Regions from separate parts of the Homo sapiens genome. Here all the other regions are linked to region 2. The links come from fine-mapping of genetic effects on gene expression. A gene starts in region 2. Each other region holds a variant in brackets. All regions are shown on one strand. Distances are from middle to middle.

The links. PIP is the estimated chance that this variant, and not a neighbour inherited with it, causes the effect.
Region 1: its variant is the best candidate, but not a certain one, in a credible set for the expression of ZNF232 in whole blood (INTERVAL, PIP 0.76).
Region 3: its variant is the best candidate, but not a certain one, in a credible set for the expression of ZNF232 in whole blood (TOPMed, PIP 0.59).

What each region holds. Positions count from the first base shown.
Region 1 is chr17:5,083,545-5,090,061 of GRCh38, reverse strand. All of the region lies in intron 1 of ZFP3 (ZFP3 zinc finger protein), which reads right to left. Among named protein-coding and RNA genes, the nearest start is that of ZFP3, 8.3 kb to the right of the region's middle. The variant T/AT (reference allele first, on the strand shown) is at 2,985.
Region 2 is chr17:5,109,850-5,116,225 of GRCh38, reverse strand. It overlaps ZNF232 (zinc finger protein 232), which reads left to right and starts at 4,348. Exons shown (of 4, transcript NM_014519.6): 1 at 4,348-4,426; 2 at 6,358-6,376. The coding sequence starts at 4,404. It overlaps ZNF232-AS1 (ZNF232 antisense RNA 1), which reads right to left and starts at 4,291. Exons shown (of 3, transcript NR_135658.1): 1 at 4,125-4,291; 2 at 2,774-2,840; 3 at 1,844-2,068. It overlaps USP6 (ubiquitin specific peptidase 6), which reads right to left and starts at 194. Exons shown (of 38, transcript NM_001304284.2): 1 at 1-194. RefSeq lists an enhancer at 3,988-4,037.
Region 3 is chr17:5,059,741-5,066,257 of GRCh38, reverse strand. It overlaps the pseudogene LOC100421332. Among named protein-coding and RNA genes, the nearest start is that of ZFP3-DT, 15 kb to the left of the region's middle. RefSeq lists an enhancer at 3,177-3,937. The variant GC/C (reference allele first, on the strand shown) is at 3,673.

The DNA of each region.
Region 1 (6,517 bases), 26 kb after region 2:
TATATATATAGCAATGCTGTTGATCATTACATATTAATTTTGTAATCAGCTCTCTTATAGTATTTTCTTAATACCTTCATAGATTACTTAAAGAGTGCATTTTTGGCAGGGTGTGGTGGCTCACACCTGTAATTCCAGTACTTTGGGAGGCAGAGGTGGGAAGATGGCTTGAGCTCAGGAGTTCAAGACCAGCCTAGGTAACATAGGGAGATCTTGTCTCAACTAAAATTTTTTAAAAATTGGCCAGGGGCAGTGGCATGTGTCTGTAGTCTCAGCTACTGGGGAGGCTGAGGTAGGAGGGTCACTTGAGCCCAGGGGGTCAAGGCTGCAATGAGCCGTGATTGTGCCACTGTACTCCAGCCTGGGTAATAGAGCAAGACACCTTGTTTCTTGGGCAGGGGTGGGTGGGAGGAGAGTACCTTTTTAAAACTTTTACAAAGATTTTTAGTTGTGGCAAAAATGTTTAGTTGCCTACCCCAATATTATTCCCCATTGCCTTATAACAGAATAATAAATTTATATAGTGTGGCAATTAGCCTAGCTAAAAAAATACATTCCCCAGCTTTTTAATTTTTGCAGTTGGGATTGGCCACATGATCATATTCTAGCCAATGAGACAGTGAGATGCAAATGAAACCACATGGGACTACTAGGAAATCTCCTAAAGGATGAGGAGATACATTTCTTCCATCTTGTCTTCCATGCTGTTCCCAGAGCATGATGTGATAGCTGGACACCATCCTGGACCATGAGTATACTGGCATAGCCTAGGACTGGGGATCACAGCTGGAAGGAACCTGGGACCCTGATGACTCCATGGTACTGCCATACCAATCCTGGAATGCCAGCCTCTGGACTTCATTTATCTAAGAGAGAAATAAGCTTTTGCCTTGCTTAAGATATTGGGGGTTTTTTATTATTATACGAGGCCAAACCTATTCCTAATAAAACTGTCCTGGGGATTTGGCTGTCCCCACCACAGACAAGGGGTCCAAATGCCAGGAGAATAAGCCTGACCTTTGTTCAGATGGTAAGCAATCTGGAACTAATATTAAAGTGGCCTTTGCTTAGGGCAGTCTATTTGTGCACTACGGCAAATCTGAGGAATACAATCCTCCCGTCAGTGAAAGTGTTCACTGTGGAAGGTGATTCTCAAGGGGGCATGGGAATGTATGGAACTTCATCCTTTAGACATTGCAGAACTATGGGATGGTTTTTTAAACCAAGGAATGACATGGTCCCTAGTCAGATTAGCATTCCACGCAGATGCACACTCGTGGTCGTTTAGTGGCTGAAGTAGAAAGCAGTGGGCCTGGCCGGGCGTGGTGGCTCACGCCTGTAATTCCAGCACTTTGGGAGGCCGAGGATGGTGGATCACGAGGTCAGAAGATCGAGACCATCTTGGCTAACACGGTGAAACCCCGTCTCTACTAAAAATACAAAAAATTAGCCGGGCATGGTGGCGGGCGCCTGTAGTCCCAGCACTTTGGGAGGCCAAGGCGGGAGGATCACGAGATCAGGAGACTGAGACCATCCTGGCTCACACGGTGAAACCCCATCTCTACTAAAAAAAAAAAAAAAAAAAGAAAGCAGTAGGCCTGCACATAGGAAGATCAGCTGGGAGGCTGCTGCAGTCATCAAGGCAAAAGGTGATGTGATCTCACTAGAGCACTAGTAGCAGTGGGGAGGAAGAGACAGGCTGGGGAAATACGGAAGAGGTCAAATTCTGCAAGACTTGGTGTGTGACTGGAGATAGGTGTAAGGAGGGAGGACTCAAAGATGGTGCCCAGATCTCACTCAATTTGAGGGATGGTAATTAGATGGACGGTGGTGCCACAATATTCTGAATACTGGGAGAGGAGCTAATATAGCAATAAAAGATGATCAGTGAGCTCTGTTTTGGACAAAATGAGTTTCAAGGTATCCACAGAGAGGTATCAAAGAATCAGTCAAAATATATTGGTCTAAAGCTCAAAGTAGTCAGGACTAGAGATACAGACTTGAAAGTACTCAGCCTGAGTGTAGCATGAGAACCATCAGAGGCTGCGAACAGAAGCCTAGGAGTCAAAGAAACAGTCACGAGTGCTCCAGTTATCTTCCATTTTCCCTCTAGATCTTCTTTCCACCTTTCTCCCTGTCCCTCTTTGCCCCAGAAACCTAACCTGTATGGAACACATCAACAGAGCCTCTGGCTTCCAGCTGTGGTCCACCAATGAGGAGCCCCAGCAGGGGTCTGGAAGCAGGGACGAAAGGGCAGGGCAGGAGAAAGGGGTCAGGGTTCCTTCCTGTGAGGTCGCCTTGGGTTGGTGTTGTCCCTCAACTGAGGTCCCTACTCCTCTCAACTCTATCCTACTCAGTAGTCTCACTGTCTGGGTTCCAGTAACCTCTACTCCCTCCTCTCTCTTCAGGCCCAGGGCTAGTGACTATTATTGCCAGCCCTGGGTTCTTCAATGACCTGCCCACACCTAGATCATTTATAATTAACCTCGCTGCAAATAAACCCTCCTCAAATTATCCTAATTTGAGTGAGCTGTTTCCTGTTCAGACTCCGTTCATAAAGGGGTGAGTAGAGGAAGAGAATGAGCCAAGAAGATAAAGAATGGTAGGGAAACTGAAAAACCAGAATAATGTGTCACAGAAGTCACTTAGGCATTGGCAGAGGGAATTTAAAAATATCGAGTGAAGGCTAGGAACGGTGGCTCACGCCTTTAATGCCAGCACTTTGGGAGGAGTAGGTGGGAGGATCACTTGAGCCCAGGAGTTTGAGACCAGCCTGGGAAACATAGCAAGACCCCATCTCTACAAATTAAAAATTTAGCCAGGCATAGTGGCATGTGCCTGTAGTTCCAGCTACTCGGGAAGCTGAGGTGGGAGGATCACTTGAGCCTGTGAGGTAGAGGCTGCGGTAACCTATGATTGAGCCACTGTACTCCAGCCTGGGCAACAGAGTGAGACTCTGTCTCAAAAAAAAAAAAAAAAAAAAA[T/AT]CAAATGCAGTTGAGATTCGCTAGGATAAGAATTAGAAAATGTCTACTGAGGCTGGGCACAGTGGCTCACGCCTGTTATCCCAGCACTTTGGGAGGCCAAGGCAGGCAGATCATGAGGTCAGGAGATCGAGACCATCTTGGCTAACACGGTGAAACTCCGTCTCTACTAAAAGTACAAAAAAAGGAGCCAGGCGTGGTGGCGGGCGCCTGTAGTCCCAGCTACTCGGGAAGCTGAGGCAGGAGAATGGCCTGAACCCGGGAGGCGGAGCTTGCAGTGAGCCAAGATCACACCTCTGCACTCCAGCCTGGGTGACAGAGCGAGACTCCGTCTCAAAAAAAAAAAAAAAAAAAAAGAAAGAAAATGTGTACTGAGACAATAGATAGTCACATATGAACTGTGAGCACAGATTCAGGGGAATGACAGTAGCAAAAGCCAGCTGGTAGTGGACTGAATAATGAATTTGCTGCTTCTTTAAAAAAAAAAAAAAAAGTGGATGAAAGGAGAAGACCAAGACGGACAGTGCTATAGAGCAAGGCTTTCCTCTGATGGAAGAGATATGAACATGTTTATATTAGAAGGAATAGGTCCAGCAGAGAGACAGGGGTTAAGAGTGAAGAAAGGATGAGATTACTGAAGAAACAAAGACCCTGAGCAGCAGAGGAGGCTGGAGTCATGTGGTAAGGGAAGGGGAAAGGTGGAGATTTGGGGGCGACTTTGGACTCCCCTTCTCTCTGCCCAGCCTCCCGTTATCCACAGGATGTTGGTTACTAACACCATCCGGCTCGGGCACCTCTAGTCACTCATCAGGGCAGCCTGGTAATGCCCCCCTCCCCAGACACCTGGAAGGAACCTGATCTCCTACTGGAATCCTGAAGTCTTAGAAGCTCTTTGTGCTACACCTGAAAATGAGGTGGAACTTTCTTTGACCTTCCCCATCTCAGCATCTTCTCTCATTTTCCCATGAAGTAAGAGAGGGCACCTAAAAACTGTACTTCTCCTTTTTGTTGAAATCTTTGAAAATTATAGGTAATGTGTATCTATACAATTGTAAGAATCCATTGTCGAGAATTTAGCTATCTTCTTCCTCCATGGTACCATCTGAGTTGGGAAGTACTGTCTTAAATACATTTCTCTCTCATCCCTACCCAAGAGCAAGTTCCACAAGCTGCCATTTCAGTCTCCATCTGCTTCCAACCCCCTCTCTGGCCTTTCCTTTTCATCCTCATGCCTCCTATACTTGCTTATTTTCCATCATCTAGTTCTTTACAAAATCAGCATTCGTAGAGCTGACACGTGTACCACGATAAATGGAAAATCACTTTTTCTTAGCAAAACAAGATACGACAGAAGTTAGGTATGTATTTATCCCCAGTCAAGTAACCAGGACCTAGTTTAAAACTCAAATTCAGGGCCGGGTGTGGTGGCTCACACCTATAATCCCAGCACTTTGGAAGGCCGAGGTGGGCAGATCACGAGGTCAGGAGATCAAGACCATCCTGGCTAACACAGTGAAACTCCATCTCTACTAAAAATACAAAAAATTAGCTGGGCGTGGTGGCGGGCGCTTGTAGTCCCAGCTACTCAGGAGGCTGATGCAGGCGAGTGGCGTGAACCCAGGAGGCGGGGCTTGCAGTGAACCAAGATTGCGCCACTGCACTCCAGCCTGGGCGACAGAGCAAGGCTCCGTCTCAAAAAAAAAAAACAAAACTCAAATTCAGAAAGTCTCCCCTGGCCAGGCACGGTGGCTCATGCCTGTAATCCCAGCACTTTGAGAGGCTGAGGCAGGCAGAACCACCTGAGGTCAGGAGTTCGAGACCAGCCTGGACAACATGGTGAAACCCTGTCTCTACTAAAAAAAACACACAAAAAATTAGCCAGGCATGGTGGTGTGCACCTGTAGTCCCAGTTACTGGGGAGGCTGAGGCAGGAGAATCGCTTGAGCCCAGGAGGCACAAGTTGTAGTGAGCCAAGATCACTCCACTGCACTCCAGCCTGTGCAACAGAGTAAGATTCCATCTCAAAAAAAACACAGAAAGCCTTCCCCCACTAAATCTTACCCACTCTGATCATTCTTTTACTTTGCATTCTGCCAGCAACACAGTATGTCATTTGTCAAATACTGCTCTATGGGTATCTTCTCAAATACAAATCAAAGCCAATCTCCATTTGGTTGATTCTTCCAGAGGCACAGCCATATATTAGGCCTCAGACTCATATGGAAACACCACTTCTCATAGCCTAAATTCAAATTCCCAAATACAATTTTCTATCTTTCCGTTTCTCACTTCCTCACTTTCCTAAATCTGAAATTAAATGTTTCTGAAGAGAGATAAGATGGAGGTGCTACTGGAAGAGTAGAGGTTGACCACTGGTCCTCAGTTTGGGCATGACAGGCAGACCTCTATTGGGTTTCCACAGCTCAGAATAGGACCCTCAACTTGGCAGACCTAAATTTGTCTTTTCAATGCACCCAAGGAAAGCAAGCTCAAAAAGCCTCATTCAGGCCGGGCGCGGTGGCTCACGCCTGTAATCCCAGCACTTTGGGAGGCCGAGGCGGGCGGATCACGAGGTCAGGAGATCGAGACCATCCTGGCTAACACGGTGAAACCCCGTCTCTACTAAAAATACAAAAAATTAGCCGGGCGTAGTGGCGGGCGCCTGTAGTCCCAGCTACTTGGGAGGCTGAGGCAGGAGAATGGCGTGAACCCGAGAGGCGGAGCTTGCAGTGAGCCGAGATCCCGCCACTGCACTCCAGCCTGGGCGACAGAGCGAGACTCCGTCTCAAAAAAAAAAAAAAAAAAAAAAAAAAGCCTCATTCACAACGTACTGATGTATAAACCAGATATCTATTAATTAACAACAAGAAATAAAATTTATAAAGGACCATATTACCTAGATGAAAATCTACATGAGCCAGGCACAGTAGCTCATGCCTGTAATCCCAGCACTTTGGGAGGCCGAGGCAGGCAGATCACCTGAGGTCAGGAGTTCAAGACCAGCCTGGCCAACATGGTGAAACCTCATCTCTACAAAAATACAAAAATTGGCTGGGCATGATGGTGGGTGCTTATAATCCCAGCTACTCGGGAGGCTGAGGCAGGAGAATCAGTTGAACCTGGGAGGTGGAGGTTGCAGTGAGCTGAGATCGCACCATTGCACTCCAGCCTGGGCGACAGAGCCAGACTCCATCTCAAAAAAAAGAAAAGAAAAGAAAAGAAAAGAAAAGAAAATCTGCATGGAAAGCCACATAAAACCCTGAAAATTGCTTAGGAGCCCTGAAATCATGGCAGGAAGATCTTGTTAGATGAATGTCTCTTAAACAATGGTTCCTGGCCTGGAACTAGGCTAGCTGCGTGAGAATCCACTGAGAAATCTGTTAAAAATACTAATGTCCAGGTCCCATCTCAGATCTCTCAGAATCAGAATCTCTAGTGGGACCAAGAGATCTATATTTTAAACAAGTACCCTAGGTGATTCTGATGCCCAGCCAGGTTTGAAAACCACTGTTACAAAGTCTTTTTTTTTTTTTTTG
Region 2 (6,376 bases):
TCAATGAGCGTCTCGAGCGCTGCCCGCGGCCCCTCCTGACTGCTAGTTGGAGCGGGGACAGCATGGGCGCGGCCGCCAAGGTAGCGTCGAGTGAGGGGAAGACTGATGGGCGCCTGGAGACGAGCTCCCACAGCGGCCACGCATTTGGAGCTGGGCGTCGGGGCCCGCCCGTCCCGCCGCGCCGCTAGCTGTCCCCTCTGCCTGGCCTCCGTGCCTTGCGCCCCTTTGTGCCGTCCAGCCCTACAGCTTTGAGGCCCTTTCGGCGCACGCACCCCGCCCCGATCCCCCGGCGCTATCCCAGCCTTGACGGCCGGGGAGGCTTTCCCTAGCCCGGCGCCTCGAGGACCGCCTCAGTGGCCAAAGGCGGCGCGGGGTGCGCCCGGGCTGTGTCCCCGGGAGGCTGGACCGCCAGTCCGCGCATGAGGCCATCTGTGAGGCACGAGTGCAGGAGAGTGAAGGAGACCGGGGCGTGCTGAGTAGGGACCTCCCTCAGTGACTGGAAGGTTATTCATGGGGCCTTCTGACACTCTAAAAACGAAATTTCTCCGGGGTTTGATGAGTATCAGGGTGGTGGCTTCTTGAGTTTTGAGCAGGCATCACAAATCAATCCCTCTGGAATACAGAACTGCCTCTGTTCCGTTTTGGGTTTTGTGTGTGTGTGTGTGTGTGTTTTTGGAGACGGAGTCTTGCTCTGTTGCCCAAGCCGGAGTGCAGTGGCGCCATCTCGGCTCACTGTAACCTCCGCCTCCCGGGTTAAAGCTGTTGTCCCGCCTCAGCCTCCCGAGTAGCTGGGATTACAGGCGCCCCCCACCACGCCAGGCTAATTTTGTATTTTTAGTAGAGAGAGGGTTTCACCATGTTGGCCAGGCTGGTCTTGAACTCCTGACCTCAGGTGATCCACTGGCCTCGGCCTCGCAAAGTGCTGGAATTACAGGCACGACCCACCACATCCGGCCCTCTGTTCCTTGTTTCGAAATAACTCAATTAAAAGTCAGAGGCTCACTGGCCACATCTCCTTCCACCCACCCACCGCCCCACCCCCCAAAAGATGCCTCTAGCAAATAAAATGAGACGTCCTGATGCCTTCCTGGCTCGTTCCAGAATTTTTAGCTTTGACTTTTGACGTGGGGTCCTTCTACCTAAAGTCCCCGCCGTCACATCAGCCCCCAGTTTTCCTCTGTCTTAGCTCGGGCTGCCGTAACAAAATACCATAGACTGGATGCCAGACAACAGAAATTTATTTTCTCAGTTTTGGAGGCTGCAAGGCTGTGACCAGGGCCCAACATGGTCAGGTTCTGGTGAGAGCTCCCTGGCTGCCTTCTCACAGGGTCCTCACATGGCAGAGAGAGAGGGACCCAAAGCCCTCTGGTGTCTTTTTTGTTTGTTTGTTATTTTTTGGGACGGAGTCTCACACTGCTGCCAGGCTGGAGTGCAGTGGCCCGATCTCGGCTCACTGCAACCTCCACCTCCCAGGTTCAAGTAATTCTCCAGCCCCAGCCTCCCAATTAGCTGGGATTACAGGCACCCACCACCACACCCGGCTAATTTTTGTATTTTTAGTAGAGAGGGGCTTTCACCATGCTGGCCAGGCTGGTCTCGAACTCCTGAGCCCAGCTGATCCACCCGCCTCGGTTTCCCAAAGTGCTGGGATTACAGGCGTGAGCCACTGCGCCTGGCCAGAACTCAGTCCTTACAGAACATCAGAGAATCCATACAAGGTGAGAGAGAGGCCTTATAAATGCATTGGGTGTGGGAAAGATTTGAAGGGGAGCTCACAACTTATTCAGCATCAAAGAATTCACAGTGGAAAGAAACTTTGTGAATGCAATGAATGTTCAAAGACTTGTAATCAGAGCTCACACTTTATTCGACATCATAGAATTCATAGTGGAGAAAAGCCCTATGAATGTGACAAGCATGGGAAAGCCTTCAGATGGAGCTCAGACCTTGTGAGGCATCTGGAAATTCATATTGGAGATAAAGTTTTGGAATGTAGCGAGCGTGGAAGAATTTTCAATCAGAGCTCAGGTCTAATGCAGCACCAAAGAAACCATACAGAATCATAACCCTAGGAAGACAGTAATGATAAAGATGTCAGTATGTACATATAGGAAGAGAGAAGGAGAGTTTGTTTTTGTCCTAACTATTTGGAAAATTGTAAGCTTCCTAAGAGCAATTTTCATCTGATTCAGTGTATAGTACTTAGTCTCAGGTCATGTGCAGATATGTCCTTCCCAAATGCTTACCACAAGATAAATCAGAAATCTTGACTGGAATAAGCTTCTAGTTCCTTTGCTTTATCATGAGAGGTTCCACACCACAGGAAAATCTTGTAAATGGTGGAAGCTGCATAAAGCACCATCATCATCACAAAATGGTGTCCTTGTGTGTCCTGTTTAGCAGCACCGAGAATCTAATAGCTTTCCCCTTGTCTGTTTTTCCTTACTATGAATTGTGCCAGGGGAACAGTAAAATGGGTATGATATCCTGAACTCTAGGGTGGATGTCTTTCTGGGACAGAATCTAATCCAAAAGTCTGCAAATGGACTTGAGGTTTTCACATTAGTATAAATGTCAATATGTAGTTTAGGGAATTTGCCTTATTCCTCCATTCCTAGCAAAATTAGATACAGAAGCAGCTAATTAAATCAGGAAAAGGAAACTGACAGTAAGTCATAGGACCCATTGTCTTCTCTCATGTAAAAGTAGAAGTTGTGATTCAATCTGTTCTGTAGGATTTAAAAGTATAATGGCACATTGAAGTTTGACATACTGAAATTCAGGCTCTGTCAATTTCATCTCTGTAACCTTTATTGTTTCTGAGTCTTGAGTTTTCTCATCTGTAAAATCAAGATAATGACATTAATACAATCCCTTGTGGAGCAACTGTGAAGACTAAATAAGACAATTTCATTAAGTTCCTGGCATAGTTCTAGACACGTAGTAGACATTCAACAAATGATAACTATTTTTATCCATAGCTCCTACGTGCAGTAATTATCAATGGCACTTTGAAGGAAAAAAGATAATATATCCCCCAGCCATGGGGGTGTCAATGCGCATTTTCAAGGATACTATATCTTGGAGAAACAAATTTAATAATCTGAGAATCTGAGAACTGTTACTATGGTACTACACAGTTGAACAACAATTTTTCTTGGAGAGACTAGGATTAAGCTATTTTATAAAAGTATTGAGAGACTGGATCAATCAATATCCTGCAAAATTGATAGTGAGATAAATTTATTTTTAATTAATTTTTTTTTTGAGACGGAGTCTCACTCTGTCGCCCAGGCTAGAGTGCAGTGGCACAATCTCAGCTTATTGCAACCTCTGCCTCCCGGGTTCAAACGATTCTCCTGCCTCCTGAGTAGTGGGGACTACAGGCGCCCGCCACCACGCCCAGCTAACCTTTTTGTATTTTTAATAGAGACAGGGTTTCACCATGTTGGCCACCATGTCTCAAAAAAAAAATAAAAAATAATCGGCCGGGCGCCTGTAAACCCAGCACTTTGGGAGGCCGAGACGGGCGGATCACGAGGTCAGGAGATCGAGACCATCCTGGCTAATATGGTGAAACGCCGTGTCTCCTACCAAAAAAAAAAAATTAGCCGGGCGTGGTGGCGGGCGCCTCTAGTCCCAGCTACTCAGGAGGCTGAGGCAGGAGAATGGCGTGAACCCGGGAGGCGGAGCTTGCAGTGAGCCAAGATCGCGCCACTGCACTCCAGCCTGGGCGACAGAGCAAGACTCCGTCTCAAATAAATAAATAAAATAAAAAATAACAACAACAAAAAAACACCAACCCCTATTTCCCCCATCGCAATAAAATTAACCTTAGAATTCTTTTTTCTCCTCCCCTCCCCCTACGCCCCAGGAATTGTACAGGCTAGTGGTTGGGGAATATTTTTTCGTGGAAGGGACCGTCTTCCTTAGCTGTGGCCCTCTCATCAGGTCTGGGAAGAGGTAATTGGAAAATAGAACTCATGGAGAAGTGTTACCACAGGCCATGGACAAGGCCAGAATTTCCCTGACATCTGTCCGCCAGCACCGCCCTTCAGGTACAATTCCACAAGAGACCCCCCAAACTTGATGAAGTCACCCGCTTACAAGGGCTCACTCTCCACCTGCGCAAGGACTGCAATTCCCAGGGGCCTCCAGGGCACCCGGCCGCTCCAGTCCAGTCGTGCAGGCGGCGCGCTCTTTCTCGCTCCGCTCAAGTCCAGGAACCGGTTCCCGGGCTCCCAGCCTCTCGGCAGCGCCCACGCGCCTGGGCCAAAGTCCGCGAACGGAAGCCGGCGGCGAGGAGGATTCTGGGAGTTGGAGGCCGAGGCTGCGACCTGCGCAGGCGCAAACCTGCCCCTGGGGTGAGGGCTGTAAGTGGCGCGATTCGCGGCAGCGCCCCGATGGAACCTCCTGGTCCTGTGAGGTGAGTGTTGGCGGCGGCTTCCCCGAGGTCCACCTGGCGGCTTGGCTTTTGCCCGTCCCGCAGGCAGCGGCGGCTCTGCAGTGAGCAGGCCTGGCAGGCAGCTCCGCGGTTGTGTGTGGAGAGGGGTTTGGGTTGCCCGTGGTGCCCGCGCTGCGCTACCTGCGTTGCGTCGCGTCACGTGCCGTGGAGGGGGGTCTTGATGTTCCTCTTCTCTTTTCTCGAGACCCTTGGGTAGGGAGTGAAGGGTGGGAAGGGGAGTTGTACCTGGCCTGGACGACAGCCCCCTCCCCGGGCGGGCACCTGCCCGAGGCCGGGGTAGAGAAGTTTTGCTGGGGCCAGCGGCGCCGGGCATCACCCTGGGAGACGCGAGCTCCGCGTTTTTCCTCGCGCCTCCTTTGTCTTAGGCCAGCGGTCCCCCTTTGTGCTCCTTTCGTGGCCTCTGATGCGTTCCACCTCCTTCCCTGTGTGAAAGGAAAATAAAATCTCAGGACCCCAAACTTACTATGACAAAGGGAAAAGTTAAGCTTGGAAACTGAGTCACGGAAAAAAACTGCTTTTCCTTTTGTTCCTAAACCGATAGCTGCAAGATAGAAAGCAACATATGCCCCCAGGTGGCCTCCCTCACCCTGGCAATGGAAACGAACAGCCGAGCTTCACCGGACAAGACTAGAAATCGTTCCTCCACCCACCCAGAGACAAAGCATATTTGACTTCTTCCTCTACTGTATGTCTACCTTATCTTGTGTAAAATGCAGATTTACTGAGCACGAGACAAATTCATAATTGACTTCCTCTTTTCACGTGCAACATGTGGATTCAGTGAGCTCTAATCAAATCCTCACAAGAATGTGGCCACTTACCTCACCACATACCCTCCCTCTTCTCTCCTCCTTCCCCTCCTGCCAGCTTTCTCCCCATTAAATTGAAGCCCTCAAAACCCTCTTTGGTAAAAGTGCGAGCCACGGATCCTACTGTGGCTTGTGTGTCTTTTTCCTGGGTGCATCCTCAACCTTAGCAAAATAACCCCTAAATTGGTTGAGACCTATCTCAGATGCTTTTTTGGTTTACACCTGTTAGATTTCCTTGACGCAGGCCACTGTACCCGAGACTTGTTCATAGCTGCCCCTTAATAGGGCTTTGGCATTTGAATGAGATCCAGCTCCTTAAAGGGGACTTATATTTTTCTTTTGCTGTAGCTACTACTTCAGAAATTTTTGAAAGCAGGGAGGAGCCATCTCAGAGGAGGCTGCCTCCCCAACACATTCCACCTTGCACTGAAAGCTGCTCGGCTCTGGGCTCTGCATCTGGAAACTTGGGTTTTGCTTCAAACTTATTTCTTCCAATAGTCATTTCTTCCCATAGGCCCCCAGAACTTTTTTTTTCTTGATACATTTTTCCTGTCAATGGCATTTAATTAGTTGTATTATAGAAAACCACTTTACATCCCCGTTTCTACCACGGTGCAAGTTTCTCAAAAACATTGACTTAGTGCAGCAGAATTCTGGGGAGGGGTGGAAGAAAAAGCGGGACTACAGGGCATAGGACAGGGTTTGGCTCTTTGGAGTGTTGAGTATATGTATATGTTTAATGAATGAAAAAAGAAGAGGAGGACGGGCGCGGTGGCTCATGCCTGTAATCCTACCACTTTGGGAGGCCGAGGTGGGTGGGTCACCTGAGGTCAGGAGTTCAAGACCAGCCTGGCCAATATGGCAAAACCCCGTCCCTACTAAAAATACAAAAAAATTAGCTGGATGTGGTGGCAGGCGCCTGTAATCCCAGCTACTTGGGAGGCTGAGGTAGGAGAATCGCTAGAACCCCGGGGGTGGAGGTTGCAGTGAGCTGAGATCATGTCACTGCACTCCAGCCTGGGTAACAGAGAAAGACTCTGTCTTAAAAAAAAAAAAGAGGAATGATTTCTTCTTATGTTACAGGGGGCCCTTGCAAGATTCC
Region 3 (6,517 bases), 50 kb after region 2:
CCAAAGCACTGGGATTACAGACGTGAGCCACCACGCCCAGCCTCAATAGTTATTTGAATTCAACTTTTTTATAGGATTAGATGAGAAACAATGGCTGACACTAGAGTCCACAATTTCTATATAATATCTGAAGGTCAGAGATCCAAAATGCAGAAACTAGATGACTGACTTATGAGACTGGTTGATCTTGACTGTGGATATTAGAAAACTTAAAATAGGGGAGACTTTCAAATGGAATTGAGGTGAAGTATGTGTGCAACCAGTGTAAGGAGCAGATGTTTGCAGATATTTCTTTTATTTTTATTTTTGAAACGGAATCTCACACTGTTGCCCAGGCTGCAGTACAGTGCTGTGATGTGGGCTCACTGCAGCCTCCAACTCCCAGGCTCAAGTGATCCTCCCGCTTCAGCCTCCTGAGTAGCTGGAGCTATAGGTGTGTGCCACAATGCTCCGCTAATTTTTTGCATTTTTTGTAGAGGTGGAGTCTCCCTGTGTTGCCCAAACTGATCTCAAACTCCTGGGCTCAAGCAATCCTCCTGCCTCTGCCTCCCAAAATTCCAAGATTACAGGCAGGAGTCACCATGACAAGCCTGCAGATATTTCAAATCCATCTGGGTTTCTGCTTCTCCTCATCTTTCTTGTCTCATTAGACATACCTTTTAAACTCTATTTGGCATTTCCTTATTTTTCCATAGGGCCACCCCTGAATCAGCAATTTTGTAAAGTTGTACTCAACCGATGCTCAAAACTAGACTCTTCTCCACTTGTGATTGAGCATGTAATTTGACCTAACAGTGCTGGACCCAAGGAAGTTGAGATTGTTCTTGGCAGTGTCTTTGGTGCCAAAATGTTGGAAGAATCTGGGCCCATTTCCAGCACTAATGGGCAATTGTTGAAAGTCACCAGATCCCACAAGGGTAAAAGCAGCATTACCAGCAGAGATGGACAAACATGTCCAAACTGGGTAAGCAGGTGACATCTCCCATCATCCTAATAATCACTGCTTAATATGGGATGTGGGTTGTAAGAATGACAGGAGACGGGCTGAACCCAGAGGGGCTGGGCTGTGCGGAGACGGATATAAATGATTGTATTAGGACTTTTCAAAATCAAGGGAATTCCCTTCTCTTGACAAGGACTAGGTGTTAAATTATGCAATGCAGTGGACATTTCAGCCTTCTCAGAGAACAAAGAACAGTTCTGCCCCTTTAGTCTCTACTCAAAACAATTGCACCCAACATTCACATATTATTTTGTTTCAGCCCAGCCTTCAGCTTGTGTGACTGGCCAACTGCCCTAAAATCATCTAACACATGAATTCTTTTTATTTTATTTTTATTATTTATTTATTTTTTTTCTTTTGAGATGGAGTTTCACTCTTGTTGCCCAGGCTGGAGTGCAGTGTCACAATCTCGGCTCACTGCAACCTCTGCCTCCTGGGTTCAAGCGATTCTCCTGCCTCAGCCTCCCGAGTAGCTGGGATTACAGGTGTGCACCACCACGCCTGGCTAATTTTTGTATTTTTAGTAGAGATGAGGTTTCTCCATGTTGGTCAGGCTTATTTAATCTCAATTACCTCCTTAAAGGCCTTATCTCTAAATACAGTCACATTTGGGATTAAGGCTTCGACATATAAATTTTGGGGGAATGCAGTTCAGTCTGTAACACCATGCCTCACCCCAGATCAATTAAAATTTGGAGGAGGAGGCTGGGAGCGGTGGCTCACGCCTGTAATCCCAGCACTTTGGGAGGCCAAGGTGGTGGTATGCAACTGTAGTCCCAGCTACTCAGGAGGCTGAGGTAGGAGAAACACTTGAACCCAGGAGGCGGAGGTTGCAGTGAGCCGAGATTGCGCCACTCACTCCAGCCTGGCGACAGGGCGACAGTGTGAGACTCTGTCAAAAAAAAAAAAAAATTTGGAGAAGGAGGGCAAGCATTGGTACCTTTTCTTTTTTCTTTTCTTTTCTTTCTTTTTTTTTTTTTTTTTGAGACACGGTTTCACAGTGTTGCCCAGGCTGGAATGCAGTGGCATGATCACAGCTCACTGCCTCCCATCTCAGCTACCTGAGTAGCTAGGACCACAGGCATGCACCACCATGCTCAGCTAATTTTTTTTTAAATTTTTTGTAGAGACAGGGGTCTCACTATGCTGCCCAAACTGGTCTGGAACTCCTGGGCTCAAGCAATCTGCCCACCTCGACCTCCCAAAGTGCTGGGATTACAGGCATTAGCCACCGTGCCCAGCCAGCATTGGTACTTTTAAAAGAGTTCTCCAGGCTTGGCCAAGCATGATGGCTCATGCCTGTAATCCCAGCACTTTGGGAGGCTAAGGCAAGAGGATCACTTCAGGTCAGGAGTTTTGAGACCAGCCTGGCCAACATGGCAAAACCCAGTCTCTACTAAAAATACAAAAATTAGCCAGGCGTGGTGGCAGGCACCTGTAGTCCCAGCTACTCGGGAGGCTGAGGCAGGAGAATCGCTTGAACCTGGGAGGAGGAAGTTACAGTGAGCTGAGATGGTGCCACTGTAGTCCAGCCTGGGCGACACAGTCAGACTCCATCTCAAAAAAAAAAAAAAAAAAAAAAAAAATGAGCCCTCCGGGGTTAAGAACCACTCATAAAGCATGAGCTTTGAAGACAATCCCACACTCCCCTTGGGCTTCTGCTATTTCCCATGTACCTAGGAAAGTGCCCTGAGCTCTGAGTTTAGGTTCCTCTCCTATAAAATGGGAGTACTATTAGCACACAGGGTTCATGTGAGAATTAAATGAGATACTGCAGACAAAGCACTTCACACCTGCCAGGCTGTCGCAGGTACTATACAATGGCAGTTCCCACTCAGCTACTCCTGCCATGAAGAAGGAGACAGAGAGATTTTCCTGAGGCAGCAGGCAACAGTTGGAAGAAAAGGGGAGCAGGAAAGGGTGTTTGTGTGAGGAAGGTTATCCTTTGCGTGAGGAAGCACAATTAAGTAAACTGAATGTTGAAAGAGAACAAGAGGCTGGGCGTGGTGGCTCAGGCCTGTAATCCCAGGACTTCGGGAAGCTCAGGTGGGCGGATCACCTGAGGTCAGGAGTTGGAGACCCATCTGGCCAACATGGCGAAACCCCGTCTCTACTAAAAATACAAAAAATTAGCCTGGCGTGGTGGTGCACGCCTGTCGTCCCAGGTACTCGGGAGGCTGAGGCATGAGAATTGCTTGAACCCGGGAGGCAGAGGTTGCAGTGAGTCGAGATCGCGCCACTGCACGCCAGCCTGGGCGACATAGCAAGACTCTGTCTGAAAAAGAAAAGAAGGCCAGGCACAGTGGCTCACGCCTATAATCCCAGCACTTAGGGAGGCCAAGTCAGGTGGATCACGAGGTCAGGAGTTCAAGACCCGCCTGACCAATATGGTGAAACCTTGTCTCTACTAAAAATACAAAAATTAGCTGGGCATGGTGGTGCATACCTGTAGTCCCAGCTACTCAAGAGGCTGAGGCACGAGAATCGCTTGAACCCGGGAGGTGGAGGTTGCATAGAGCCGAGATTGCGCCATTACACTCCAGCCTGGGCAACAGAGCGAGACTCTGTCTCAAAAAAAAAAAAAGAGAAGGAGATATGTTTACAGATTTAGGCGTCTTCTTCCCTACTCGGGAATAAAGAGGCAGTTTTCTTGCTGGGCATCAGGTGGC[GC/C]CAGCAACCTACAGACAAGAATTTCAACTGTGGCCGGGAAAGTGGATGAGGAAGGACAGTTGAGTCCCAGGTCTCCCTGATGCAGCTGCCACTTTGTCTAGACAGAGAGTCTTCAATCATTTGTCTAAATTTCAGTTAACCCATGAAATTCAGTATGTGGACTAATCCACCTCCTCTAGATTTTTTCTAATTATTTTGATATCAAGAGATATGTATAAACATGCATACTCTTATGTTTGTGGTGTTTTCTTAGACTGGCCGAAGATATTCTCTTTCATTGCAGTCATAGGATTATTCCCTGAGACGAATTATTTGATATTGTCATAAAGATTGACCTAGGCCAGACAGCATTTACCCATCTGTTACATTCAAACAGTTTCTCTCTGATATGAATTATCTGGGGTAGAGTAAGGCATGAACTATAATTGCAGGACTTCCAATATTTATGTCACTCACAGGTTTTCTCCCCAGAGGTAATTCTTTGATGTGGACGAAGATTTGAGCTCTGATTAAAGGCTGACCACATTCAATAAATTATGGGATTTCTCTCCTGAGCAAATTCGGTGATGTAGAATAAGATGAGGATTCTGAGGAAAGGCTTTCCTGCAGTCTTTACATTCAAAGGATTTCTCTTCTAACATGAAGTCTCTAGTAAGGCTAAATTATAGCTAAATATTTACCTGCACTCCTTACTTTTTTTTTTTTTTTTTTTCCTTGAGACAGAGTTTCGCTCTTGTTGCCCAGGCTGGAGTGCAATGGCGCAATCTCGGCTCACTGCAACCTCCACCTCCCGGGCTCAAGGAGCTCTCCTGCCTCAGCCTCCCGAGTAGCTGGGATTACAGGCACGCACCACCACGCCTCGCTAATTTTTTTTTGTATATATATATATTTTTTGTTTGTTTGTTTGAGACAGAGTCTCGCACTGTTGCCCAGGCTGGAGTGCAGTGGCATGATCTCAGCTCACTGCAAGCTCCGCCTCCGGGTTCACGCCATTCTCTGCCTCAGCCTCCCGAGTAGCTAGGACTACAGGCACCCACCACCACGCCTAGCTACTTTTTTGTATTTTTAATAGAGACGGGTTAGCCAGGATGGTCTCGATCTCCTGACTTCGTGATCTGCCTGCCTCGGCCTACCAAAGTGCTGGGATTACAGGCGTGAGCCACTGCGCCAGGCCATTTTTTTCTATTTTTAGTAGAGATGGAGATTCACCATGTTGGCCAGGCTGGTCTCAAACCCCTGACCTCGGGTGATCCGCCCATCTGGGCTTTCCCAAAGTGCTGGGATTACAGGCGTGAGCCACTGCATCTGGCCGACACTCCTTACTTTCACAGGGTTTTTTTCCAATGTGAATTGTGTGATGTTCAGTAAGACCTAAGCTCTAGCTGAAGGCTCTTCCACACTCGACGCCCTTACAGGGTTTTCCCCCCAAATGAATTATCTGATGTTGAACAAGTTGAGATCACCACCTGAAATATTTTCCAGCCAGGGGTGGTGGTTCTTTCCTGTAATCCCAGTACTTTGGGAGGCCGAGGCAGGAGGATGACTTGAGCCCAGAATTTCCAAACCAGCCTGGACCACATAGGGAGACCCTGTCTCTACAAAAACTAAAACAATTAGCCAGGCATGGTGGCACGCACCTGTAGTCCCAGCTACTCGGGAGGCTGAGGTGGGAGGATCGCTTGAGCCTGAGGGGTCGAGGCTACAGTGAGCCATGATCATGCGACTTTACTCCAGCCTAGGCAACAGAGCAAGACTCTGTCTCAAAAAAATGTTCCCACATTTATTACATTCATAAGTCTTTCTACTATGAATTCAACAATATCTAATGAGCTCTAACTTCCCTTTGAAAGTGCTCTCACTGCTGGGCGCGGTGGCTCACACCTGTAATCCCAGCACTTTCGGAGGCCAAGGTGGGTGGATCACAAGGTCAAGAGTTTGAGAACAGCCTGGCCAATATGGTAAAACCCCATCTCTACTAAAAATACAAAAATCAGTGAGCATGGTGGTGGATGCCTGTAGTCCCAGCTACTCAGAAGGCTGAGGCAGGAGAATCACTTGAACCCGGGAGGCAGAGATTGCAGTGAGCAGAGATCGCACCACTGCACTCCAGCCTAGGTGACAGAGCAAGACTCCATCTCAAAAGAAAAAAAAAAGTGCTCTCACATCTACTCTGTTCATAGGATTCTTCCATAATATGAATTCTCTGATTAGAGTATAGCGTTATGGACTGAATATATGTGTTCCCAAAAAATTCATACGTTAAAGACCCAACTCATGGCATGGCTATATTTGGAATAATTAATTGGAAGTAATTAAGGTTCAATGAAGTCATAAATTTGAGGCCCTGGCCAGAAGCAGTGGCTCAGACCTGTAATCCCAACACTTTGAGAGGTCAAGACAGGAGGATGGCTTGAACCATGGAGTTTCAGACCAGCCTGGGCAACATAGTGAGATGCCATCTCTACAAAAAATTTAAAAATTAGCTGGGCATGGTGGTGCATGATTGTGGTCCCAGCTACTCAGAAGGCTGAGGTGGGAGGATCCCTTGAGCCAAGGAGACCGAGGCTACAGTGAACCATGATCACTGGAGCCAAGGAGACTGAGGCTACAGTGAACCATGATCGCTGGGCTACTGCACTGCAGCGTGGGCGACAGGGTGAGACCCTGTCTCAAAAAAAGAGATGAAGAAGAAGGAGAAGGAGAAGAAGAAAGAAGAAAGAAGGAGAAGGAGATGGAGATGGAGAAGTAGAGGAAGGAGGAGAAGGAGGAGGAGGAGGAGGGGGGAGGAGGGAGGAGGGAGAAAGGAAGAAGGAGAAAGAAGAGACACCAGAGAGCTCTCTCATC